Homo sapiens: one gene and its partners. The protein of the gene in region 2 interacts with the protein of the main gene of each other region in a biochemical or structural test. Each region holds a gene or a part of one and is shown on either strand. Other genes may lie near its edges.

Region 1 (7,241 bases), on a different chromosome or scaffold from region 2:
CCAGCACCCCACAAAGTAACCTGACCCACACTCCCCTCTCCCTAGGGAAGCGTCACCCCAGCCCACCCCCCATCAATGTCCCATGAGACCCATGAGACATAAGCCCTCAGGCCTTTGAGCCTCCCTGACGCTCCAGGCCAGACTCCAGACCTGGCACAGGGCCTGTGCCGCTCAGCCCAGAACCCACGGGCAGTAAATATTTGTTGAATGATGGTTGTTTGGGTGTAAGCACTCTCCTGGCACTTGCACAGTGCTGTGCCCACTGCAGTGGCTACTGACAGGCGGGGCGGGACAGTGCTGAAGGCCAAATGACCTGAGGTGAGACCTGGTGTTTCTGGAAAGGGCAGGATGCTCCGGCCTTAGGTAGCCAGAGGCAGAACTTCATGCAGTTTCTCCCTCAGATGTGCTCCCTGGGGGAACAGACCTACTTCTGGAGGCCAGGCAGGCATGGGAGTGCGGGATGTGAGCATGACAGCTGCCACGTGGAAAGGTCAGCCCACGTGAGCCCGGTCAGCCCCATTTTTCAAGTGGGGCAGGCAATCCGTATGGGAGTGTGAAGTCCACCATCTTAGATGTGGGCCATGAATTCAAGATCACCAGCCGGGTCAACAAATGGCCAGTTCCAATTCACACTCCCTGTCCCTCTACTTCTGACACTGTACTCTCCCCTCGTTGCTCACTTTCTACCTTTACAGCGTCCAGCAAAGCCCTCTGGAGCACTTGTGGCCTGCCCAGGAGTGGCTTCTCTCTCTGTCACTCCACACTCCAGGGCTGGCTGAGCCTGTGAGGGTGGTGGTCAGGGGGACCCGGAGCCACACCTTGTCCTCACCTTCGTTGTGCTGGGCTCTTCTCCTCTCATCTCGGGGTGTTCTGGTTCCATCAATTTTTCTACAAGAGGAGGAAAAAAAAAGGGGGCATGTATTATCGCAGAGCTGTTTGCCCAAGCATCTGCTAAGTATTAGATTTGAAAATTATCTTTGCAAGGTAAATCCATCTGCAAAAACAAAAGACATGATACTTTATGTGCACTAGAGCAGCAGAAACAGGCAAAGAAAAAAAACATTACACCATGTGCCCACTTCATGCTAACTGCCCAGCTTCTACTCCAGAAACCCCTCTTCCTTCCATTTCAACACCAGGCCCTCCAGGTGTCCCCTGCACATACGGAGAGTAAGGGTGTGTCCGGGGGGCGATCGTCCTCTGTGTTCCTGTCTGAAGCACATCCTGGGGCGTCATCATGACGTAGAACTGGCCTGCAGGGAGAGTGGGGGGTTAGTGGCAAGGCAGGGTGAAGTCAGAACTGGCTGGGGGGGCTTCCCTCCCTGCTGGGCCCGTTGCCTCCCCCACCTGCCAATCTGACTTCTACTCCTCACCTCCAGCCTGCAAGCTCTGGTCTGTGGTCTGTACGGACACAGCCGTAGTATCTCCCACACTGGACGCTGGGAAATAGGCAAATCGTGCCTCCCCGCTGACAGCCTCGGCCGCCGGACTGCCACCATTGCTGAAGGGATTTTGGATCACAGCCTGGGGAGTAGGAGGGCAGAGGCTACCCTTAGCTTTCTCTGTTCCTCCATCCCGTCCCCTCATTGCTGTGCTTGGGGTTTACTGCATTCTCTGCAATTAACAGGAGTGGGGACTCCTTCTGCGTGTAGCATTCTGTCCTGTGTTTCAAACAGCCCTGGAACATGGCGGGAGGTCAGCGATCACTTGCTGAGCAAATCCGTTTCGCACTCTAAGAAACTTTCCTCTTAAGACACATCATTCCCATTTTGCGGGAAAAAAAAATTCCAAGAGCACTGTCCCCAGGTTTCACGGTGCACAACAGGGATCTGGCCCCATGCAGCCTGAGGCCTGAAGGCAGCATCCGCTGGGCGACACCTGCCCCACCCCCGGGGCTCCCCAAGAGCAGAGCCAGTGTCCCCTCTCCACTCCCTCCCCCCCCCACCCAGGGGTGGCAGGGCACCTACCAGCGGGAAGGGCGCTGCAGGACCTGGGGGCACAGAGGCAGCGGCGGGGCCCGGGCGCTGGGCTGCCCCGTCCACACCCACCTGGGTCACAGCCTGCTGCCCCCCCGCGAAGGCAGCGGTGGACACGACGCTGACGGCGCCAGCTGTGTCGCCCTGGCCGTCCAGCTGACCATCAGTCACCTGGACTACGCGGTATGTCACCTGCAGGGGGCGGCAGAGCGGCGAGGCCGGCGCTGGGGCCAGGTCCGAGCCTTCCCGGCGCGCCCGCCCGCCCGCCCGTTCGCCCTCGCGGCCCGCCGCTCACCTGTCCTCCATTTGTCTCTGTGCGGAACTGGTACTGGATGTTGTGGTCGCCGAACGCCGCCTGCTGGACGCTGGTGATGGCCACCGCTGTCTGCTCCTCCGCTCCTGGGCCGTCCCCGCCTGGGGCCGAGGAGGGTCGGGGCACGGTCAGGGCCGCGCCGAGCGCCCCCAGCCCTCCCCGGGCGCGGCCGGCCCGGCAAGCACTCACCTTCCTGCAGCTCGACGCCCTCCTCCGCCTCGGGTCCCTTGTCGTGGCTGCCAGGGGCACAGGAGGGAGCAGGGTCAGCGCGGCCCGCGCCCGCGCCCCCGCCCCCGCGCCCAGCTGCAGGGCCCCAGTCCCACCCGGCCGCGCCTGAGGCCGGGGGCGCCGCCGAGGCCGGGGGCCGGGGGCGGGAGGCGCCAGGTCCCCCCCGCGCCGGCGGCCTCCATTTTGAGCCGGGCCCGCGGCCGCTCGGGATCATGGCGGCCCCGGCCTGCAGGCCGCGGGGCCGGGGCCGGGGCCGGGGCGCGGGGGCACGGCCGGGCCGGGGATCTTACCTGGCGGCGGCAGCAGCGGTGGCCGAGGCAGCGGGATCCAGACCCGGGTCCAGCATGTCCATGGGGGGGGCGGGGGCGGGGGGGGCGCGGGGCCCGGGGGGGAGGGGAGGGGAGGGGAGGGAGGGAGGGGAGGGGGCGGGCGGCCGGGGGGGCCCCGAGCCCGGCGCTCACGCCGCGCGGCAGGAGGGGACGGAGGAGATACGGGAGCCGCTCGCGCTGATCACGGGGACAAACAGTGGGGTCATGTGAGGAGGAGATGCCGCCGCCGCCGCCGCAGCCGCCGCCGCTCCTGCAGCCGCTGCAGCCGCCGCCGCCTCCGCCTCCGCCCGCCCGCCGGCTCCGGGCGGCCCGAGGCTCCGGGACGCCGCGCGGCCGCCCCCAGCCCACCCAGCTGCCCGCCCGCTGCACGCGGCCCTCAGGCCTCCTTCCCTGAGCAGCCGCCGCCGCCGCGACTTTTTTTTTTGAACACGGCCCGCCCTGGCTGGCCGCCGCCAGTGCCCTGGATCGCCGGCTCGCGCGGCCGCCGCCCGGCTTGGCCCAGTCCGGCGGCGGATCGCTGCTGCAGCCGCCGCCGCTTTCTATTTTTCCCCCTTTTTTTTTTCCTCCTTTACTTGAGCTGCGCGCGCGCGGCGGCGGCGGCGGCGGCGGCGCGAGCCCCGGGGCGGACGCGCGCTGGGGGGAGGCGGCCCGGGGCGCGCGCGCTGGTCTGTCTCCGGGGGCGGGCGGGCGCGCGCGAGCCCGGGGCTCCGCGGGGCGCGAGGTCGCCGCGCGCCGCCCTGGTGAAACGCGGGTCTGGATGGAACGTCGGGGTACCCGGTGCAGGGGCTGGGGTCGTCGGGGGCCAGGTGGGCTGCCCGAGTTTGGAGACAGTAAAGTAGGTCGGTGGGGGGCTGGGGGGGATGGGCTGGAAGGGGAGAGGAGCGCGCGCGCGTCCCGGACGGCCAGCCTGCGGTGCGCGAAGGCGGAGGGCCGGGGCGCATGCGCACGCCTGGGCGGGGCCGGGGCGCGCACGCAGGCGGGCGGCGGCTGCGCGGGGCACGTTCTCCGGCCGGCGGCGCGGGCGCGGGCCGGGCCAGGCTGGGTCTCTTCCTCCCGGCCCCGGACTCCGGTGCCCCCGGGACGCGGCGCTTTACAGACGCATACGGGAGCAGCCCCGGTCCCCCGCCCCGCGCGGCCGAACAAATGGTTCTCTCCAGAGCTTGTGATTATACGTTTTATTAGACTCGGGAGGGGTATGGCAGGGCTTCATCAGTGTTCCTTCAAATTAAAAAAAAAAATACAAAAGCTACGTAGAAAACGTCAGATCAGACGACTAAACTTTCCCGACTCAGGGCCAAGTTCTGCAAGGGAGAAAGAAAGAAGGGTATGAGCCGCGGGGACCGGCTGGGGGCCCAGGGACGGTCTGGACGCCAGGGAGGGCGGCCCTCACCTTCTTGAGCCTGCGCTCTCGGGACGCCTGCGAGTCGGTCTCCGAGTACGGGGGCGGCGCGGGCGGGTAGTAGGCCTCTTCCTCCTCCTCCTTGTGGGGTCTCCTCCTCTCCTCCGACCCCTTCTTCCTCACAGCCTCCTCCAGTAGCCGCCCATCATAGGGGAGGTCCCCGGACCTGGAGCCGTTGTCCCGAGGGTCCCGGGTACGGTGGTGGTGGGACCTGGGGTCGGCAGGAGGGCGCTCCCGAGACCTGAAGTCGTCGTAGTGGGGGTCCCGGGAGCGTGGGAAGTCCCTCGAGTCGTCTTGGTCATAGAGGTCGTCCCGGCTGCGGCTCCGCGGGGGCATGTAGGCCCGGCTTCTCCCACCATTACTCGTGGGAGACCTGCTCCCTGACTCGGCGGTGCTCGGCGGGGTGAGGTCGTCCAGGGCGTCCACGGAGCGGGCCCGGGGCCGCCTGGCCCGCCAGCCCCCGCCTGCCTGCTCCCTGGCGGGCTCCTGGTCCCATCCCCTGGGACTCCGGGGGGAGTGGCCACCCCACTCCTCATCCCGGATCGGGGTGAGGGCAGGGCCCCGGGAAGGCCGAGATCGCCAGTCGTCCTCGTGGAGGGAGGTGACTTCACTCATGGCTGCAGGGAAGGGGGGTGTCACTGACTGCTGGAGGAGCCCGGGGTCCAGGGTTTGCACCAAGAGTCCCTGCGGCAGGTATCAGGGAGACATGTTTCACCCCCCCACCTTAAAAGCCCTCAGACCCCAAGGCTCCTGCTTACCCCGCTCCACACGGCCACTGGGGGGGCCAGGTCGAGAAGGGTCGAAGTTGGCCAGCTCCTTCTCCATGTAGTACAGGACCCGCATGGAGTCGTCCTGCTGGCTGGCCTGAATCCTGTAGCCACTGCGGACTTCTAGGGACAGGGGGGTGGTGGTCGGTTTGGGAGGATGGATCCTGGCCCACCCCTCTCCCTTACAGGCACATCCAACTTCGGGACGATGGATTCTCACCAGAGGCCACACTGCTGTCCGTGTCCCGAAGCAGGGGTACATAGGAGCCTTGGCCACCAGCTGGGGGAGAGTGGCTGTCAGTGGCCGCGCACCAGGAGCAGAGCCCCTCCTCGGCTCCCAAGACACTCTTCCTTCCAGCCCCTGCCCCTCAGTGTCCAGATGCCCAGCACACTCCCACCAGCTGTTCCTGCTTCCCCCGGCCTCACCTGAGCTACTCCTGTCAACGTCTCCAGGGTATCCTCCAGGGTACCCGTTGTAGGCAGGGCCCATGGGAATCATAGCTGGTGGGGGTGGGGTCTTGGCGGGAGACAGGTGGGCATAGGTGCTGGGGGCATAAATGCTGGGAACACCTGAGGTGGCTGCTTTGCCGGCGGCATACACTGTGAGGACACAATCAACAGGAGAAGGGGGATGAGGCAGGAGCCAGGCTGCCCCATACCCATTGGGTTCCGGAGGGACCTGGGCCTGGACCTCCTTCCCAAGCCGTCCTCTCCGCTGTAGAGCTTCCTTGGACATCTGAGTCCCTGTTGGTCCTCATTCCATTTCTGCAGCATCCCTGAGGCTGGGGGACACCAGCTTCACAGAGACCCCACCCCACTTCCTGTGTGATTTTTCAGAGGGTGCACGCAGGCACCCACAGCCCCAGGGTGGCAGAACAATGTTTCATTTAACAGCATGGTAATTCGCCAACATTTGTCAATCAAAAGGTTTTACCTAAACTTCCAACTCCCCAGCTAACTTACTGGAAGAAGTGGCCACCCATGGTCTGTGTGTTTACAGGGCAACAAAGCTGCCCTTTATATAAAGCCCAGATGCTGGGTCCACCACTGTCCCCACAAGCCGAAATCAAGTATCCTCTTTGGCAGCCAAGCCCCTGTTCTAGAAAAAATGAGTCATCTGGGAGACGTGGGTCCTGCCCACCTGGTCACCTTCCAGATTGAGATGCAGTGGCAGGAGCCTCGGGAATTAACTTGCCTGCCCCGGCCAAGCAGCAAAGTGTCTCCTCTAGTGTTTCTAACTCATGGACTGCACCCATTTCTGCCTGCCCCACCAGGCTCTAGGCTTGACAGTTCAAGGTAAGATCCTCCTCCCTTCCTTCCTCCCTAGGGCAAGAGGCTTGCAAAATTCCTGGGCCCTAGGCAAGTGGCTTCCTCCCTGGGACCCCAACAGGAAAATGGAGGAGAGAGATGGGCCCAGAGAGGGTGCCTCACCTCTGATTTGGTTTGGAAGCAGAAGACTAAGTGCACAGCCTAGAGGAAGCCCCTTCATTAGCTCAGGCAGCCTGCAACTTTATCATCAGCAGTGGGACCTGCTGCCTCCTGAAGGGTGGGCGGAGGCTGTGGCAGCAGCAGATGTAACAGGGCCTCTGCCAGGGAGTTAATGGGGCCCTGGGTTGGGGTAACAGGGTCTCCGGATGGAGGAAATGTGGTGTGGGGACAGGGGAATGTGGCATTGGGACCAGCATTTAGTCCTGGCCCTAGCTCTGGTCTTAGTGGGTTCACTGCAAACTTGGTTGCAGCCCATCTGTGAAATGGACCTAACACTTACTCACTGAGCAAAAAGCTGTCAGCTGAACACAACAAGAGGGAGGGGATGGGATGGCCTGCATAAGCCTCCAGGGAGCAGTGGAATTTTTTCAGGGAAGTGATCCTTTGAGGAACCAGGTTGCACACCACTGACTTCAATGACTATAAAATTAGCCAGCGACTTCCTTAATGCTAACAACAACCCATGAAGTCAGGACCTAACAGAAGGAAACAGGACTCAGAGAGGGAAGGCTGCTTCTCTGGGGTCACTCTGTGTGCACCAGGGCTCTGACTGGTGCCCTGTCCCTCAGTCACTACTGAGGCTGATAGTGGCAGTGCCCAGCAGCTGACAGACGTAGAATATTTTATATAGGTTGGGCCCCATGCTCAATGGTGTGCACATGAGCTCGCCAAATCCCCAGATGCACCCAGTGTGGTGAGCTCTGCCATAAGCCCCATTTTATAGGGGATGACACTGAGCCC
Region 2 (4,431 bases):
TTTTTCCTTTTTTTTTCCTTTTGGCTTGGAAATGGACGTTCGAAGACTTATAGCATGGCATTCATACTTTTGTTTTATTGCCTCATGACTTTTTTGAGTTTAGAACAAAACAGTGCAACCGTAGAGCCTTCTTCCCATGAAATTTTGCATCTGCTCCAAAACTGCTTTGAGTTACTCAGAACTTCAACCTCCCAATGCACTGAAGGCATTCCTTGTCAAAGATACCAGAATGGGTTACACATTTAACCTGGCAAACATTGAAGAACTCTTAATGTTTTCTTTTTAATAAGAATGACGCCCCACTTTGGGGACTAAAATTGTGCTATTGCCGAGAAGCAGTCTAAAATTTATTTTTTAAAAAGAGAAACTGCCCCATTATTTTTGGTTTGTTTTATTTTTATTTTATATTTTTTGGCTTTTGGTCATTGTCAAATGTGGAATGCTCTGGGTTTCTAGTATATAATTTAATTCTAGTTTTTATAATCTGTTAGCCCAGTTAAAATGTATGCTACAGATAAAGGAATGTTATAGATAAATTTGAAAGAGTTAGGTCTGTTTAGCTGTAGATTTTTTAAACGATTGATGCACTAAATTGTTTACTATTGTGATGTTAAGGGGGGTAGAGTTTGCAAGGGGACTGTTTAAAAAAAGTAGCTTATACAGCATGTGCTTGCAACTTAAATATAAGTTGGGTATGTGTAGTCTTTGCTATACCACTGACTGTATTGAAAACCAAAGTATTAAGAGGGGAAACGCCCCTGTTTATATCTGTAGGGGTATTTTACATTCAAAAATGTATGTTTTTTTTTCTTTTCAAAATTAAAGTATTTGGGACTGAATTGCACTAAGATATAACCTGCAAGCATATAATACAAAAAAAAATTGCAAAACTGTTTAGAACGCTAATAAAATTTATGCAGTTATAAAAATGGCATTACTGCACAGTTTTAAGATGATGCAGATTTTTTTACAGTTGTATTGTGGTGCAGAACTGGATTTTCTGTAACTTAAAAAAAAATCCACAGTTTTAAAGGCAATAATCAGTAAATGTTATTTTCAGGGACTGACATCCTGTCTTTAAAAAGAAATGAAAAGTAAATCTTACCACAATAAATATAAAAAAATCTTGTCAGTTACTTTTCTTTTACATATTTTGCTGTGCAAAATTGTTTTATATCTTGAGTTACTAACTAACCACGCGTGTTGTTCCTATGTGCTTTTCTTTCATTTTCAATTCTGGTTATATCAAGAAAAGAATAATCTACAATAATAAACGGCATTTTTTTTTGATTCTGTACTCAGTTTCTTAGTGTACAGTTTAACTGGGCCCAACAACCTCGTTAAAAGTGTAAAATGCATCCTTTTCTCCAGTGGAAGGATTCCTGGAGGAATAGGGAGACAGTAATTCAGGGTGAAATTATAGGCTGTTTTTTGAAGTGAGGAGGCTGGCCCCATATACTGATTAGCAATATTTAATATAGATGTAAATTATGACCTCATTTTTTTCTCCCCAAAGTTTTCAGTTTTCAAATGAGTTGAGCCATAATTGCCCTTGGTAGGAAAAACAAAACAAAACAGTGGAACTAGGCTTCCTGAGCATGGCCCTACACTTCTGATCAGGAGCAAAGCCATCCATAGACAGAGGAGCCGGACAAATATGGCGCATCAGAGGTGGCTTGCGCACATATGCATTGAACGGTAAAGAGAAACAGCGCTTGCCTTTTCACTAAAGTTGACTATTTTTCCTTCTTCTCTTACACACCGAGATTTTCTTGTTAGCAAGGCCTGACAAGATTTAACATAAACATGACAAATCATAGTTGTTTGTTTTGTTTTGCTTTTCTCTTTAACACTGAAGATCATTTGTCTTAAATAGGAAAAAGAAAATCCACTCCTTACTTCCATATTTCCAAGTACATATCTGGTTTAAACTATGTTATCAAATCATATTTCACCGTGAATATTCAGTGGAGAACTTCTCTACCTGGATGAGCTAGTAATGATTTCAGATCATGCTATCCCCAGAAATAAAAGCAAAAAATAATACCTGTGTGGAATATAGGCTGTGCTTTGATTTACTGGTATTTACCCCAAAATAGGCTGTGTATGGGGGCTGACTTAAAGATCCCTTGGAAAGACTCAAAACTACCTTCACTAGTAGGACTCCTAAGCGCTGACCTATTTTTAAATGACACAAATTCATGAAACTAATGTTACAAATTCATGCAGTTTGCACTCTTAGTCATCTTCCCCTAGCACACCAATAGAATGTTAGACAAAGCCAGCACTGTTTTGAAAATACAGCCAAACACGATGACTTTTGTTTTGTTTTCTGCCGTTCTTAAAAGAAAAAAAGATAATATTGCAACTCTGACTGAAAGACTTATTTTTAAGAAAACAGGTTGTGTTTGGTGCTGCTAAGTTCTGGCCAGTTTATCATCTGGCCTTCCTGCCTATTTTTTACAAAACACGAAGACAGTGTGTAACCTCGACATTTTGACCTTCCTTTATGTGCTAGTTTAGACAGGCTCCTGAATCCACACTTAATTTTGCTTAACAAAAGTCTTAATAGTAAACCTCCCCTCATGAGCTTGAAGTCAAGTGTTCTTGACTTCAGATATTTCTTTCCTTTTTTTTTTTTTTTCCTCATCACAACTAAGAGATACACAAACTCTGAAGAAGCAGAAATGGAGAGAATGCTTTTAACAAAAAAGCATCTGATGAAAGATTTTAGGCAAACATTCTCAAAATAAGAGTGATATTCTGGATGTAGTTATTGCAGTTATCTCATGACAAATGAGGCCTGGATTGGAAGGAAAATATAGTTGTGTAGAATTAAGCATTTTGATAGGAATCTACAAGGTAGTTGAATATAATAAGCAGGTTTGGGCCCCCAAACTTTAGAAAATCAAATGCAAAGGTGCTGGCAAAAATGAGGTTTGAGTGGCTGGCTGTAAGAGAAGGTTAACTCCTAGTAAAAGGCATTTTTAGAAATAACAATTACTGAAAACTTTGAAGTATAGTGGGAGTAGCAAACAAATACATGTTTTTTTTTTCTTACAAAGAACTCCTAAATCCTGAGTAAGTGCCATTCATTACAATAAGTCTCTAAATTTAAAAAAAAAAAAATCATATGAGGAAATCTAGCTTTCCCCTTTACGCTGCGTTTGATCTTTGTCTAAATAGTGTTAAAATTCCTTTCATTCCAATTACAGAACTGAGCCCACTCGCAAGTTGGAGCCATCAGTGGGATACGCCACATTTTGGAAGCCCCAGCATCGTGTACTTACCAGTGTGTTCACAAAATGAAATTTGTGTGAGAGCTGTACATTAAAAAAAATCATCATTATTATTATTATTTGCAGTCATGGAGAACCACCTACCCCTGACTTCTGTTTAGTCTCCTTTTTAAATAAAAATTACTGTGTTAGAGAAGAAGGCTATTAAATGTAGTAGTTAACTATGCCTCTTGTCTGGGGGTTTCATAGAGACCGGTAGGAAAGCGCACTCCTGCTTTTCGATTTATGGTGTGTGCAAGTAAACAGGTGCATTGCTTTCAACCTGCCATACTAGTTTTAAAAATTCACTGAAATTACAAAGATACATATATATGCATATATATAATGGAAAGTTTCCCGGAATGCAACAATTAGCATTTTAAAATCATATATAGGCATGCACATTCTAAATAGTACTTTTTCATGCTTCATTGTTTCTCTGGCAGATAATTTTACTAAGAAGAAAAATAGATATTCGACTCCCCTTCCCTAAACAAATCCACGGGCAGAGGCTCCAGCGGAGCCGAGCCCCCTGGTTTTCTCGTAGGCCCTAGACGGTGTTGCATTTATCAGTGATGTCAAACGTGCTCATTTGTCAGACATAGCTGTAAATGAAAACAATGTGTGGCAAAATACAAAGTTAGTTAAATACACACCCTCTGTGTGATTTTTTGCTCCCTTTTCTTTTTTGCTCCTACTCAAAAAAAAAAAAATCACCTCCTTTACATTTCCCTGGCTTCTTGCATGTTTCCCTTTTCAAAAACCATGTAATAATTTTTTACAATGTATCTGACACATTAATATATTGACATCAAATAGGCAGACATTCTACTTTTGCCTGGCAAATAAATCTGCTACGGAGACATCATTTCCTCACTGTCTCAAAGCCATAACTACCTGGGAGTCTTTCAACACAGACCCCTCCGATGGGAAATGCTGTTTATTACTGAATGCAGGATGCTCACGCTCTGATCTTTTCTCCCTTGTGCCTTTACCCCAGTCATTTTTACTTAGCAACACCAATTCTAGATACTTCTGTTCTGAAGTAGAACCACCCCCTTGCCACACTGCCAGTTTTCCTGCTAAAAGCAGTGGACAGAAGACAGATCATGGTCACCCTCACAAACATGGCACACAGCTGTCTCGGTAGCTG
Region 3 (7,031 bases), on a different chromosome or scaffold from region 2:
GCCAGGGACATTCCACAAAGGATGACACAATATATTCAAAGATTGGGATGTTCGATGACTTCCCTATATTCCTGTTATATTTCTCACCTTATTAGGAAATCTTTATCTCCAATGGTCCTGAGCTAGTGAGATCAGAAAGACTAAACTGCATCCCTCTGTGCTTGCCTCTGGTTGGTTGATTTGTCCTGCTTTAATACATGATCCAGACAAGAAAGAATCAAGCCAAAGCCACAGCATTATGAATGAAATTCTTTGTTTTTAATTTCACACAGTTTAAAATACAATATGAAATCAGGCTACAGTATATAAAAAACTCTCCAGCAAAATGATGTGCCAGCATCAGCTACTAAAATAAACAAACAAAAAACTCCGCCATAAGAATTTTTTTGCATTTTTTTTTAAAAAAACATCGACACTTACATCGCTACATCTCTAAGCTACCTCAGTTCTGATTTTTAAAAAGCACCTGCTTTTCCTTTTTTTCATCTTGCTTCTAAATTTTCAGCTTTTAAAAAATATAAATTATATGAAAATACAAGTTGGAAAATAGTCAAACACAATATAACATCTTTTTCATCCCTATACTTCTCAGCTTAAAAAAAAAGTATTCTTAAAAAAAAAAGTTCAATAACTGAGGCAGTATTCCTGATAATTTTATTTTAATATATATATTTTATATATGTATATGTATACATATATTTATGGTTCCTTGAAACTTCTTTGGAATGTAGGTAAGAGTTCAACAAATTTATATAGACCCCAACAGAGTAAGCGGCATGCACAGCATGACTAGAAGAGAGATGGTGTATTTCTCACCATGAAGGTTAGGCAGGTTAATGCTGTAAAACCCAGAGTGTTCATCTCCAAAGTGAGGAAAAGCACATCTGATCTTTGAATGCTACCTCCAATCCCCACAGCCACAAAAATCAGGGCTCTATGTAGGGGAAGTCCCTCTCCAGAATGGAGAAGGGAACAAAAGTGACTCTGAACCCTAAAGCCAAAACCAACAAAGGTTAAGGCATCTCTGGGAAAATAAGGGTTTCACCCAGCTAGACCAGATTTGCCCATCCTTCCTCTGAAGTTAACGTGTGTTTTTAAAAAGCATAAACGCAACATTTCCAGTGTATAAACCACCCACCACTCTTCCTGGGATGGTCTCTGGCCTTTGGACAAAGGAGAAAAAACATCTGGCCAGATCGACAAAGCTGTCTTAACTAATACACTATCTACAAATCTTGAAAATGGTGGACTTAGAGAGAAAGGGAATTTTAGCAAACAAGCGGGCGGAGGAGCACTAGGAGGCACTTTCTTATATCTTATCTGCTATAGGAACTGCAGGAGTTATACTCACAGAAGGAGAGTTTCCGGCATAAATTTAATAGGAACGGTGGATGATTTGAGAAAGTGATTTTATGCCTGGTTGCAAACAGCAAGCAATAATTGATACCCGGCCCTGGTTCTACTCTTACCCATTATTGAAATGTGGAAAGACTTACCTAGAAATCTAAGGTATTATTTCAGCTGCAGTTTTGCATGTCTGCAAACACACACACACACACACACACACACACACACACACACACACACAACATTCACACACATGCACACATTCACACACACACCTTTTGCCAGTGCCCAACAAAAATCACATAATCTAAGAGAAAACAATGTAGTCCAAACAGTTCCACCCAACACTCCCTGAGCAGCTCCTAAAATATTTTGAGAGCTTCATTAAGGCACCTGCATCCAAAAGATCAAAATAATACAGCTGGGATAATTCTGCCTTTGCTTTCCATATGGATGCTCCAATTCATCAGTATGGGGACACTCATGAATCACAGAGCTATGTTCCTGATAATTCTGGGTCTGCAAGAGGATCTGGGAGTAAATAACAATCAATTTTCTTAAAGATATGCTAGAAAGTAGTTAGTACTTCCAATTTCTCATCCAAATCCCAAAAAGGGCCAGCCCTGAGAAGCTTACCTGAAATATTTCTTTCCTTCTCTCATGGAAGTCCATAAAAGCCACCCCTCCTCCTTATCCTTTCAACTGGGCAACTATAGAGTGAGGGAGATTCTAATTGTATTAGGCACTTTTCCTCACTAGTTAGATGTTGACTTTTCCTCTAAAACTCCATTTTCAGATTCCCCCTCACAACCAGCAGAAAGATGACTACCTTGCTTGACTATGTTTGTATTTAAACCTTGGGGGAACTAAAAATCTATTCAAATCTCATGGACAACCTTATTTTCCTCACTGAACCTCCTTCCTTAGTTTCCTTTGCCTTCAAGTCATTCCTCTCTTCTGGAATTAACCTTCACTTACCCTGTGCCAAGACATCAGACCCAAGCAAGAGGCCCTGGCATCACCTGTGCCATTCATTTTGCATACACAGTCTCACCTGACATCCTACCGGACTAATTTAAATTCTTCAAAGGAAAGCCTTGCACTTCTCTTCCAAAGACAGCCAAGTCACATTTTATTGAAATGCTCTCTTAATTTCCATCACTTCTAAAACTCAGCAAGTCTAAACTCTTCAACTTAGGTCGTGTCTCAAGTTACTTTTTCACTCACCAATCAGAAAGCCGTACACTTCTCTCTACTGAATAACAGAGTTGGCGGTGAGGGGGTGCAAAAAATGGAGGACTCTTGGAAAATAAGACATAAAAGAAAAATTACAGAGTGTTAGTTTGGAACGACATGCATTCAGGACTTATTTCTTAGGACCTGAGGGGTAATGCCCATGCATACAGCTTTTATTCCAAGTCATCTATGCTACAGATATAGGACTAAGAAAGAACCAAGTCAATCTTCCTCCTTCGATCTCCCTTCCAGGACTTCAACAGTGCTCCTACGTTTACTGTCGTCCAAAACCAGGGATGCAAAATACATTCAGTTCAAAGACTTAATGCTTCTTAGCTCAACATTAAGTCCAAACCCCGAGAATCCACTGATAACAAGTAAGTAAAGGGATGTGCTAATTTTTTTTAATTGTAGATGACATTCACACACATAATTCCCCTGTACCCAAATCAGCATTAATTGTCCTTCTTATATAAGTCCCATGAATTTGGGATCCCTGATCTCAGTGAGAGCGTTTTGCTTTTCCAATGGGGTCTATATAAACAGTTTTCTTTCATTGTGACAGAATCCTCAGCCGGCAAATAAAAACAAACTTACATGATATTGCAATACTGAGACCACCTTAGAGCTTAAGACGATTTTTAAGAAAAAAAATACTGGCACAAAATTTAATAAAATAAATTTTAACACAACAACGGTTTTGGCCCCTCCCCACTGAAGTCCATCTTTGCTTCAAAACTAGAGTGATAGGTAAATAGTTCTCAGATTTTCAGTGCATCCCCCCCCAAAACATGTTTCATCCCACCCACCTCTTTTTTGCCCTCCCAGACCTAAAAACAGAAGCAAATTAATTGCCTTACATCAGTTTCATGAGTTCTGATGTGACAATGTCACTTGCTAATGGGTCCACAACTCAAGACACTTTTTCATGGATGATTTTTAAAAATGATTGGACACATTAGTCTCTTTCTCTGTTAAGCCAGAGCCTTCAAGCTTCTGAGAAGGCCCTTCTCCCTCTCCTGAAAATTTGCTCAAGAATTTCTGGTCCCACCCACCCCACAAGTCCTGGCTTTCCTTTCCCAACTGCGCACAATTGATTACAGCTGCAACTGACTTAGCTCCCACCCCTGAAGGTAAAAAATGAGTTCTGGAAAATAAAAAATAGAATAACAATTCAAAATTCAGAGTCCAACCAACACGGCTGTCCTTGGAAGGTCTCAGCAGGGTTTCCCCAGCCCCTTCAGTGCCATCACTCGTCGGCATCTGGCTTGACGTCCAGCATGGCGTGCAGCTCCTCAGGGGTGTACCCCAGCAGGCTCTGCAGGTCACACACAAAGCGGTACACGTAGCGTTTCCCCGCTGTCTTGTGGATGATGTTTTTGTCGTAATAGTAGCGTAGGCCACGGCTCAGTTTCTCATAATTCATCTTAGGTTTGTTTTTCCTCTTTCCCCATCTCCTGGCCACCTGAAATTTAAAAAGAAAAATAAAGGAGGAGTAGGCAAAAATCTACAAGACAGGCCAAATATATATGTTTCTATGCCTATGCTATACCCATTCATGGTGACCCATGATGCTCAAGTAAGATGATTTGAGATTCATGTAGATATAGAAAATATTTTTCGGGCCTATCTCCTGAATTCCATTTTTCATGGGTTGGGCAAGGATGGGAGTCACAATGATTCTTTAAGTTGATGAAAACACAGTGACCCTGAACTAGGATTAAATATGTGACTTTAAAAAACAAACAAAAAGCCACACTATACATTCTCCTCTTTCCGCATATTATTAGTAAAATCTCCTTGCTTTGCAAGCATGAAATCTAACAGGGAAGTGTGAAGCGGAGGAGCTGAGCTGCAATCATACCTGCCTTTCATCAACAGGAAGTGTTTTTTTTCCATACCAGGGCACAAATATTTTCTCATGTCTGCCAGAACAAAGATGTTGTCTCTCCTGTTCATTGTTTTTTATCCTCAGAATTGGGCATGGCACGGAACCACTACTCCATAAACATGTGTGTAATGAAATAAGAAACTAATGAGCCAATCTCCCAAGGCCTCTTGAACTGTCTGGCCCCTTTCACACTCACAGAGCCACCGGGCTAGGAAGAGGCTAAGTCACAGGAGGCAGCTCTATGGGTGATAACTGACCTACTGCCAGGCACGTTAATGCCTTCTATCAGCTAATCCTGTAAGACAAATGGGGTAACATAGATCTTTTCTCTATTTTCCAAATAATGAACCTGGAGCTCAGACAGGCTACCTAGCTTGCTCCGGGTGGCAAGTGGCAGAGCTGGGAATCCCAATCCTGGAACACGTCATTCAGGCCCACGCCACCCCTTCCAGGAGTTTTCTCTCATCCTTCCTCAACACAGTACTCGCAAGCCCCTCCTTCCTTACCTCATCTGGGTCAGAAAGTTTGAATTCCCAGCCATCTCCTGTCCAGCTGATAAAAGACTGACAGGATTTATCAGTGAGTAATTCCAGAAGAAACTGCCATAGCTGGATTGGTCCACTGCCTAGAAACACAAGCCATTGTGAATCATTACACCAGATATTCAGCACTCTACGCAGCTAATCCCCACACACGGCACTCCCACATCCCTCTTCTCTCAGCCCATCCAGCCAGGAGAAAATGAAGGCAACAGACAGTGCACATGTCGGAGGAAGTGTTATGAGCTCGAACAGATAGAAAAGACAAAGGCCTCCCTATAAAACAAAAGCATGGAAGAAAATGTGTCAAGTGCTTTATTTTGATTAACTTAAGGATCGGTTCATTTTTATTGCTAAACAAATTCTAGAAAGAGAACACTGTGCCTATCCTCTGGGATATTCTAAGGCAGCATAATCTTTTACACCTGCAAAAACTAAGTCATTATTTTTGCCTTCAGAAGTAAGAAACATATTAACGAAGGAATGAATGTCTTTGCCAGTTCCAAACACAAGTTATGGCTCATAAGCACTGCTCTGTAGTAGGGAGCCTGTGGCCCCTGATTTGTGAGTAAGAAGGATCACTATCCTCCGGCCCTCTTACAAGGAAATAGATGTTAAATATCTGTTCAGTCATAATATTTCTCTCCACTGCCACCACCCTGCCCTTCCAGTCCACTTACAGGAAAGCACCCAAAGGAAAAAAAAAAAAAAGCATCATTACTATTTGAGGAATTAACGTGCCACCCAGAAAATCCTCAGGGGTCAGATGAGGACTGTCAGAAATTCTGCATAGGTTCAGTATATTCTAAATTAGACACACACACACACACACACACACACACACACACACACACACTTCTCTGTCTTAGCCATCAACACTCTGACAGTCAATTTATTCTATGCTAAAAGGTTTATATCACACCGATTTCCTTTGAGGATACTTTTCTCATCTGAAATGACAATGCCACCAGTGATTCTTAATTTATAGGTGTCGGTGGAGAGACAAATAGGGGTTCAAAAGTCCATGCTTCTTGTTACACTGCCCCTTATAACATAAACAAACTGGGCAGAGCGGGACTGGGAAAGACCCAGTCCATGTCTCTGGATACAGCCCAGGAAGCACCAGCTCCTACAGGAAAGCTTTGCTCACTAAGGCTCTAATTTTTCACCGGAGTTGCAAATTTGTCTGATCCAAAGTAAACTGAGATTTAACAGGAAACAAACTTTAAGTTCCCTCTCAATCTAAAAAAGAAATTGCCTTCATAATCCATAAGGGTAATGTCTTGTTGTATCTCATATTTCTACAAGACATTTTCACATGCATCGTTGTGCTTGCTCCTAAAATCCACACCCAACCCTCTGCTGTAAGGAGAGGCACAAGTGGTCTTACGGCTTCCTTTCTAATGGTGCAGAAAAAGTGCTCAGCAAAGTACTGTGACTTTGCTCTGAGCCACGGTTAGCGAAATGGTGGTTCTGGGTCTAGTACCCAGGCCTTTAGACTCAAAGGACCAGGGCAACCTCCAATGAAGTAAAGAAACAGCTACTGACACGAGCTATCATCCCACAGCCAAAGGAAGTCCTCCTCCAGTAACAACTTCCTAATGGTGGTTTCCAAGGCTCCTCTCAGCACTTGCCACGCTAAATATGAAAACATGAAATAGCTCTACCTCCTCTTTCTGAGAATGGACCATTAGCTCTTTAAAACTATCTTGCAAGAAATACCTTACATGTATTCCACAATAAAATGGCTCAGTGAATGCCTATAAAATAAAGTAACATTCGAACAACAGCCCAGAGGGCCGCACTGGTAAAGCCGTAGCTTCCTCTGTTTCTACTTTCATTCAATAAAAACCGTTTCGTATTCAACTCAGGGACATTTGCAGGTTTCTTGGGAGTTGCCTAAAGTCATGAGCTACTTGTTTTCTGCCTGGGCTCACAAAACTAACCGTGACATTCTCAGAGGAATCCACTGAGAAGCCATCCTAACAGGCACAAAGAAGTAAAACAGCAAATCGCTC
Region 4 (7,031 bases), on a different chromosome or scaffold from region 2:
ACATCCCGCAGGGTCTCTTCTTCGATGATTCCTATGGCTTCTACCCAGGCCAGGTGCTCATTGGCCCTGCCAAGATCTTCTCCAGCGTCCAGTGGCTGTCAGGTGTCAAGCCCGTGCTCAGCACCAAGAGCAAGTTCCGAGTGGTGGTGGAAGAGGTGGGTCCGGGCCCAAGGGTAGGAGATGGAGTCCTTGACCTCCACACCCTGGAGCTGAGCTGCTGCCCCTTTCCTTCCTGCTCTTGAGGGTTGAGCCCCGCTCCTCAGCATCTGGACCCTGTTGATCTCAAAGGGCTTTGGGGATAAAGGGAACCCAGGCTCTGGTCATAGTGACCAAAAGACAGATGTGCCCCAGCCCAGCCTGTACAGGCTGAGCAAGGTGGGAGGGTGGCAAGTGGCAGTTCCAGTGGCCCCTGGCTGGTATGAGCAGTGACACTGGTCCTGGGCATTGGGTGGGGGCCGTGGTTACAGTTGGGGCCTGCTCTGATGTGTCTGTACTTGGTGCTGCACTAGGAAGATCAGTTTCCTGCTCTGGAGGTCAAGTGGGCTTTGGGCAGCTGGCTAAAGAGAGTGCTGTCAGAGCCTGCCCTGACTGGCGTGTCCCACCTGCCATCCCCAGGTGCAGGTTGTAGAGTTGAAAGTTACATGGATTACCAAGAGTTTCTGTCCAGGGGGCACGGACAGCGTCAGCCCCCCACCCTCTGTCATCACCCAGGAAAACCTAGGCAGGTAAGCATGCCCTTACTGCCAGCAACCCAGGGGCACGCGTGGGACAGGGCTCTGGGCCCTGGTCACATGCCTGGGGAGGCTTAAGAACACTGCTGGCCTCCCAGGAGTCCAGCCCAGCTCACCCCCACTTCTTCCCCAACCAGGGTGAAGCGTCTCGGATGCTTTGACCATGCTCAGCGGCAGCTTGGGGAGCGCTGTCTGTATGTCTTCCCAGCCAAGGTAGAGCCAGCCAAGATTGCCTGGGAATGTCCAGAAAAAAACTGCGCCCAGGGGGAGGGCTCTATGGCCAAGAAGGTATGTCCTTGGGGTTGGGGATTGGTGGGCATTTGAGGAACTGGCCTTGAGCCATTTCCATGGCCAAGAAGGACAGTCTGTGCTTTAGGCCTTGGGGGGCAGCCCTGATGACCCTTGCCGGCTACTCAGGTGTATACAGCTGTCATCCCCCCAGCCTGAGATGCCTAGGGCCAGGCCTGCCCAGGTGCACCTCACAGCCCTGTCCTCTCTGCTCCGCCCTTGCAGGTGAAGCGCCTGTTGAAGAAGCAGGTTGTGCGGATCATGTCATGCTCCCCAGACACCCAGTGTTCCCGGGACCATTCCATGGAAGACCCAGACAAGAAGGGGGAATCCAAAACCAAGAGCGAAGCGGAGTCTGCCAGCCCTGAGGAGACGCCCGATGGCTCTGCCAGTCCAGTGGAGATGCAGGACGAGGGTGCAGAGGAGCCCCACGAGGCAGGAGAGCAGCTGCCCCCATTCCTGCTAAAAGAAGGCAGAGATGACAGGCTGCACTCGGCAGAGCAGGACGCAGATGATGAGGCTGCTGATGACACGGACGACACCAGTTCGGTGACCTCCTCTGCCAGCTCCACCACTTCCTCCCAGAGCGGCAGCGGCACGAGTCGCAAAAAGAGCATCCCCTTGTCCATCAAGAACTTAAAGCGCAAACACAAGAGGAAGAAGAATAAAATCACTCGAGACTTCAAGCCAGGGGACAGGTAAACTCAGAGTTGTGCCCCTCCCCAATGGCGTCAGCGTGAAGCCAGGCAGAGTGCGCGTCCCCTCGGTGTGCGTGCCTGCGCTCGCACACACACCTCTGCATGCCTTGTAGTGGCTCCGGGGCTCCCACCCGAGACAACGTAGGTGCCTGGGGTAGGCCCTGGTGGAAAGCAGAGACTGAGGAGTGGTGCAGAGGGTGGGATGGTGGTGGCCTTAAGCTTGGCCTTCTGGAACCACATTTGCCTGAGCTCTCCCAAGTGGATCCTGTTCTCAGAGAATGCGTGGCCTTGGAACCCTGGGTGAGCTTCCTGTGCACCAGAGACTCATCCTGCCAACCTGGGATTCAGAGTTTCAGGTTACCAAGCCCACAGGGACAGGAAGGGACAGAAAGACTCTCTGCCCTTTCCGCGGAGGGGGTGGGGTTTGCATGGCCTGCTGACTGGCCTGCACCCGCAGGGTGGCAGTGGAGGTGGTGACCACGATGACCTCAGCCGACGTGATGTGGCAGGATGGCTCCGTGGAATGCAACATCCGCTCCAACGACCTCTTCCCTGTGCACCACCTGGACAACAACGAGTTCTGCCCTGGAGACTTCGTGGTAGATAAGCGAGGTAGTGCCAGCTCTGGAAGGGCAGCCAGCAGGGTGGTCGCCAATGAGGGCCCGGGTTGGGGCTTGTGGAGAATGGGCAGTGGATCTGGGGTCAGAGCTAAAATGAGGTCCAGAAGGGGACTGCCCTCATGAAGGGGTCTCACCACTTCCAAGACGGGGGAAGGTCAGGGTTCTGCACTCTGCACTGGCTTGAGATGTGGGCTCCTTAGCCGGGATCCCTTAGCTAGTCACTTCCCTTTCTCTGGTTCCCTAGTCCAGAGCTGTCCAGACCCTGCTGTCTACGGTGTGGTACAGTCTGGGGACCACATCGGCCGTACCTGCATGGTGAAGTGGTTCAAGCTGAGGCCGAGTGGGGACGACGTGGAGGTGTGTGCAGCCCCTACTGCTTGCTTCAGGTGGGCTCTGGGGTTGGGTGTAGGACCCCTAGCTCATGACAACCTGTCCTGTGCCACAGCTGATTGGAGAAGAGGAAGATGTGAGTGTTTACGACATTGCTGACCACCCTGACTTTAGGTTCCGTACAACTGACATCGTCATCCGCATCGGCAATACTGAGGATGGGGCTCCTCACAAGGAGGATGAGGTACGCCTTCAAATTCAAGTTCTGGATGGCTGCTCACTGCCCTGTGCACCAGCTGCAGTCCCTGATGCTGCCACCAGGTGGCTCTAGGAGACAAGACCTGAAAGTCCTCTGGGCTCAGTGTCCTCAGAAGGGCAGCTGCCCCAGAGTCAAGCTGCCGCTCAGCACTAGCAGCTGCAGAAGGACTTGTTTCCCTGCCTCCCTTCTGGGGTCAGGCTTCTTGAGCTGCCGCTGGTTACATTTACCAGAGGAGCTAAGTTCCTTGTCACAAGCCAGGTGGGCATGATGTCAGTCACTGCAGAGCACAGGAGGGGCTGGGGAGCTGGAGCTTGAGCTGGGCCCCCTGACTTTGTCCCCTTTGCCCAGCAGCCATCGGTGGGCCAGGTGGCCCGTGTGGACGTCAGCAGCAAGGTGGAGGTGGTGTGGGCTGACAACTCAAAGACCATCATCCTGCCCCAGGTGAGGCTCTGGCAAGACCCCCCTGCTGAGCTTGTGACTATGGCAACTTGGGCCGGGGGCCACAGGCGTGTAGCCAGAAGATGGGCTCTCAGGTCTTCCTGGTGAGATCTCAGCGAAAGCGTGAGGGGAAAGGCAGGCATTCCACACAGCCCTTGGTGCAGGCCTGCAGTTGGCCCACCAGCCTCGCTTCTCCCAGCAATCTCTTCACGTCCATCTCTGGGTGCATGTAGACTTTCACAAACCTCCAGGATTTTCCTGGATTGTCAGCTCACTATGCTACGAAGAATGCAAGTTCCCTCCTAAAAGGAGATGGAGACTTTCCTACCACCCTTTTTAGAAAGCTCTAACAGAGAAGGAGAGAAAGGAGAGAGCCGACCCAGTTCTAGCCCCACCTGCTGGGTCCTGAGCAGAAGGGCTACACGGGCTCTCCTTCCCTCGCCTCCTGGTTGGAGCCACACAGCCCAGCTCTCCTCTCCTGGTCCACACAGGGGGCAGGAGTGGGGGCGGGAATGGCTTGCCCCATCACCTTAACGGCCATTCCAGGGAACGCAGCAGGATATGTCGGCCCTTCTACATGTCCCCTCTTGTCATATGTTCCCAGCTCCCCACACAGGCCTCCTTGGCTGCATCATTAGCTGACCCTGCGCTTTTCAGGTGTGGGACTGGGCCTGCCAAGGTCCCCTAACGCCTTGGACAGATGCTGACGAAGTGCACAGAGCAGGAGGAGAGGCTGGAACAGACCACTGGCTGGGGCTTTGGGTCCAGCTGGAGGGTGGGACAGGTGAAGGGCCTCTCCCAGAGACCTAGGGACTGCAAAAGCCAGAGCAGAGGTCAGGGAAAGGGTGGAATGAGGTTGCCAAGGCCTCATGAGCCCAGTCGCCATCAGCTGTGCGGATCAGGGATCCCCAGAGCTCCTCCTTAGTGGTGGGGAGGTGACTTCCTGTCTGCTTACCCTGGCACTTCCCTTCTGCCCCCAGCACTTGTACAACATAGAGTCTGAGATTGAGGAGTCAGACTACGATTCGGTAGAAGGCAGCACCAGCGGGGCATCCTCGGATGAATGGGAAGATGATAGTGACAGCTGGGAGACGGACAATGGGCTGGTGGAGGACGAGCACCCCAAGATAGAGGAGCCCCCCATCCCACCCCTGGAGCAGCCGGTGGCCCCTGAGGACAAGGGAGTGGTGATCAGTGAAGAGGCAGCCACAGCTGCCGTCCAGGGGGCTGTGGCCATGGCTGCCCCCATGGCCGGGCTGATGGAGAAGGCTGGCAAGGACGGGCCACCCAAGAGCTTCCGGGAGTTGAAAGAGGCCATCAAGATCCTGGAGAGCCTCAAGAACATGACTGTGGAGCAGCTGCTGACGGGCTCGCCCACCTCTCCGACTGTGGAGCCTGAGAAGCCAACTCGGGAGAAGAAGTTTCTGGATGACATCAAGAAGCTACAGGAAAACCTCAAGAAGACCCTGGACAATGTGGCCATTGTAGAGGAGGAGAAGATGGAAGCAGTGCCCGACGTAGAGCGCAAGGAGGACAAGCCCGAGGGGCAGTCACCTGTGAAGGCTGAGTGGCCCAGCGAAACCCCGGTGCTGTGCCAGCAGTGTGGCGGCAAGCCTGGCGTCACCTTCACCAGCGCCAAGGGCGAGGTCTTCTCCGTACTGGAGTTTGCACCCTGTGAGTCAGCCCTTGCCTGGTCTTCGCCTTCCCCCGCCTTCTCGGGGCTCCTGTTTGTGTCACCAGATCTGGGTGCAGGGTGGTTAGTCCCCTCGCCAGACCCCAGCTACTGCCCCAGGGCAAACCATTTCCCTGTGTGGTCACAGTGCTGAGGCCAGCAGCGGCGAGTGGGAAGTCTGTGGGTGTGCTCACCTGTCCAGCCAGGTTGGCAGATGGAGCTCCAGGGCCTCTCCATGAGGGACTGACTATTCTCTTCCCCCCTCTAGCAAATCATTCTTTTAAGAAAATTGAGTTCCAGCCTCCAGAAGCCAAGAAGTTCTTCAGCACAGTGCGGAAGGAGATGGCGCTGCTGGCTACCTCACTGCCTGAGGGCATCATGGTCAAGACTTTTGAAGATAGAATGGCAAGTAGGCTTGGCATGGGCAGGTGCAGATGTGCTGTGTGGGCACCCAGTGCCCAAGAGGCCACCAACCTTGGGTCCCCAAACCTCCGGGGCTGACTGGCACCTGCGAGGACACTCACCCACCCACCTTTTACAGGGGCGGTCACAGGCTCAGTCAGGTGAGGGCTGACTCAGCCGTGTGTCCAGGCCAGATGGTTCTTTCTTTCCTCCCTCCTTTAAAAAATTACTTTCTCGGCCGGGCGCAGTGGCTCACACCCGTAATCCCAGCACTTTGGGAGGCCGAGGTGGGTGGATCACGAGGTCAGGAGATCGAGACCATCCTGGCTAACACAGTGAAACCCCGTCTCCACTAAAAAAAAAAAAAAAATTACAAAAAACTCTCCCGCCACCATGCGGGCGCCTGTAGTCCCAGCTACTCTGGAGGCTGAGGCAGGAGAATGGCGTGAACCTGGGAGGTGGAGCTTGCAGTGAGCCGAGATCACGCCACTGCACTCCAGCCTGGGTGACAGAGCGAGATTCTGTCTCAAAAAAAAAAATTACTTTGAAATAGGCCGGGTGCGGTGGCTCACGACTGTAATCCCAGCACTTCGGGAAGCCGAGGCAGGTGGATCACCTGAGGTCAGAAGTTTGAGACCAGCCTGACCAACCCGGTGAAACCCTGTCTCTACTAAAAATACAAAAATTAGCCGGATGTGGTGGCGGGTGCCAGTAATCCCAGCTACTCGGGAGACTGAGGCAGGAGAATCACTTGAACCTGGGAGGCAGAGGTTGTAGTGAGCCAAGATCGCACCATTGCACTCCAGCCTGGGCAACAGAGCGAGACTTCATCTCAAAAAAAAAAAAATTACTTTGAAATTAATTATATTATGATTACTCCTCAAGCCTACTTTTCTTTTTGAAAAATTAGAACATTACAGATCCTTTGAGTGGAAATGGAAGAGCTAAAGTTGCCTTTGACCAGACCTCACTTCCCTTTCTCCCCGAATCATAGGCCTCTTCCCACACCCAGAGGATTGTTGGAAGTTTAGTGGGTCTCCTTCCAAACGGATGACCTTTTTTTTATACTTTTACATTATTTATACACTAAAAAAATATTTTTACATTTTCATGTATCACCATAAGTACATAATATTTTGTATGATTTGTTTACACACAGAATATGTCGTCGTACACATCATCTCTAATTTGCTTAAGACCAACCTGTGTTGATTCATAATGATCTAGTTTCTTCCTTTTTACCTGCAAAATAGGATGACAGCATGTGGCCACACCACATTCCATTTTCCCACTCCTCTGTTCGTGGACGGGGCCTAGTGTCTCTGAGTCATGTTTACTGAGGCAGCGCTGAGTGCATCCTTCCGGAACAGGCAAGCCCGTTTGCCTGCCACCTTGTTGACTCCGCAGTCCCTTACTGGGCCTGTGCATCGAGCCAAGCACTATGCTAGACTCTGAATCTGAGTCTGAGGCCCCAGTTCTGGCCCTGTCCTGGAAGGAAGGGAGTAAGAAAAGAAAGAGCAGGGATCCTGAGAGCAGCCAAGCGATCCTGAGAGCAGCCAAGCGGGATGCTGTTGAGATGGGCCCGGAGTAGCC

Evidence for each region.
Region 1: the proteins of MAF (region 2) and USF2 form a complex in vitro, tested with the Homo sapiens proteins (one study listed by BioGRID).
Region 3: the proteins of MAF (region 2) and ETS1 form a complex in vitro, tested with the Homo sapiens proteins (one study listed by BioGRID).
Region 4: of the proteins of MAF (region 2) and UBE2O, one has a biochemical effect on the other in vitro, tested with the Homo sapiens proteins (one study listed by BioGRID).

The regions. Positions count from the first base shown.
Region 1 is NC_000019.10:35,264,730-35,271,970, reverse strand, and holds the start of USF2 (upstream stimulatory factor 2), read right to left. Parts: upstream 3,010-7,241; 5' UTR 2,870-3,009; coding exon 2,808-2,869; intron 2,526-2,807; coding exon 2,479-2,525; intron 2,391-2,478; coding exon 2,272-2,390; intron 2,169-2,271; coding exon 1,968-2,168; intron 1,525-1,967; coding exon 1,374-1,524; intron 1,254-1,373; coding exon 1,166-1,253; intron 889-1,165; coding exon 830-888; intron 1-829. Other genes in the region: LSR (lipolysis-stimulated lipoprotein receptor isoform 2 precursor), read right to left, coding at 4,112-4,147, 4,237-4,862, 5,004-5,135, 5,233-5,292, 5,439-5,612.
Region 2 is NC_000016.10:79,593,338-79,597,768, reverse strand, and holds the end of MAF (transcription factor Maf), read left to right. Parts: exon of another isoform or gene 1-3,215; coding exon 3,216-3,309; 3' UTR 3,310-3,931; downstream 3,932-4,431.
Region 3 is NC_000011.10:128,458,529-128,465,559, forward strand, and holds the end of ETS1 (protein C-ets-1), read right to left. Parts: intron 5,100-7,031; coding exon 4,981-5,099; intron 4,049-4,980; coding exon 3,833-4,048; 3' UTR 237-3,832; downstream 1-236. UniProt on the Homo sapiens protein: Transcription factor. Directly controls the expression of cytokine and chemokine genes in a wide variety of different cellular contexts. May control the differentiation, survival and proliferation of lymphoid cells.
Region 4 is NC_000017.11:76,394,135-76,401,165, reverse strand, and holds part of UBE2O ((E3-independent) E2 ubiquitin-conjugating enzyme), read left to right. Parts: intron 1-11; coding exon 12-155; intron 156-615; coding exon 616-725; intron 726-868; coding exon 869-1,019; intron 1,020-1,244; coding exon 1,245-1,717; intron 1,718-2,174; coding exon 2,175-2,329; intron 2,330-2,581; coding exon 2,582-2,694; intron 2,695-2,782; coding exon 2,783-2,911; intron 2,912-3,274; coding exon of another isoform or gene 3,275-3,277; coding exon 3,278-3,367; intron 3,368-4,344; coding exon 4,345-5,038; intron 5,039-5,304; coding exon 5,305-5,441; intron 5,442-7,031. UniProt on the Homo sapiens protein: E2/E3 hybrid ubiquitin-protein ligase that displays both E2 and E3 ligase activities and mediates monoubiquitination of target proteins. Negatively regulates TRAF6-mediated NF-kappa-B activation independently of its E2 activity.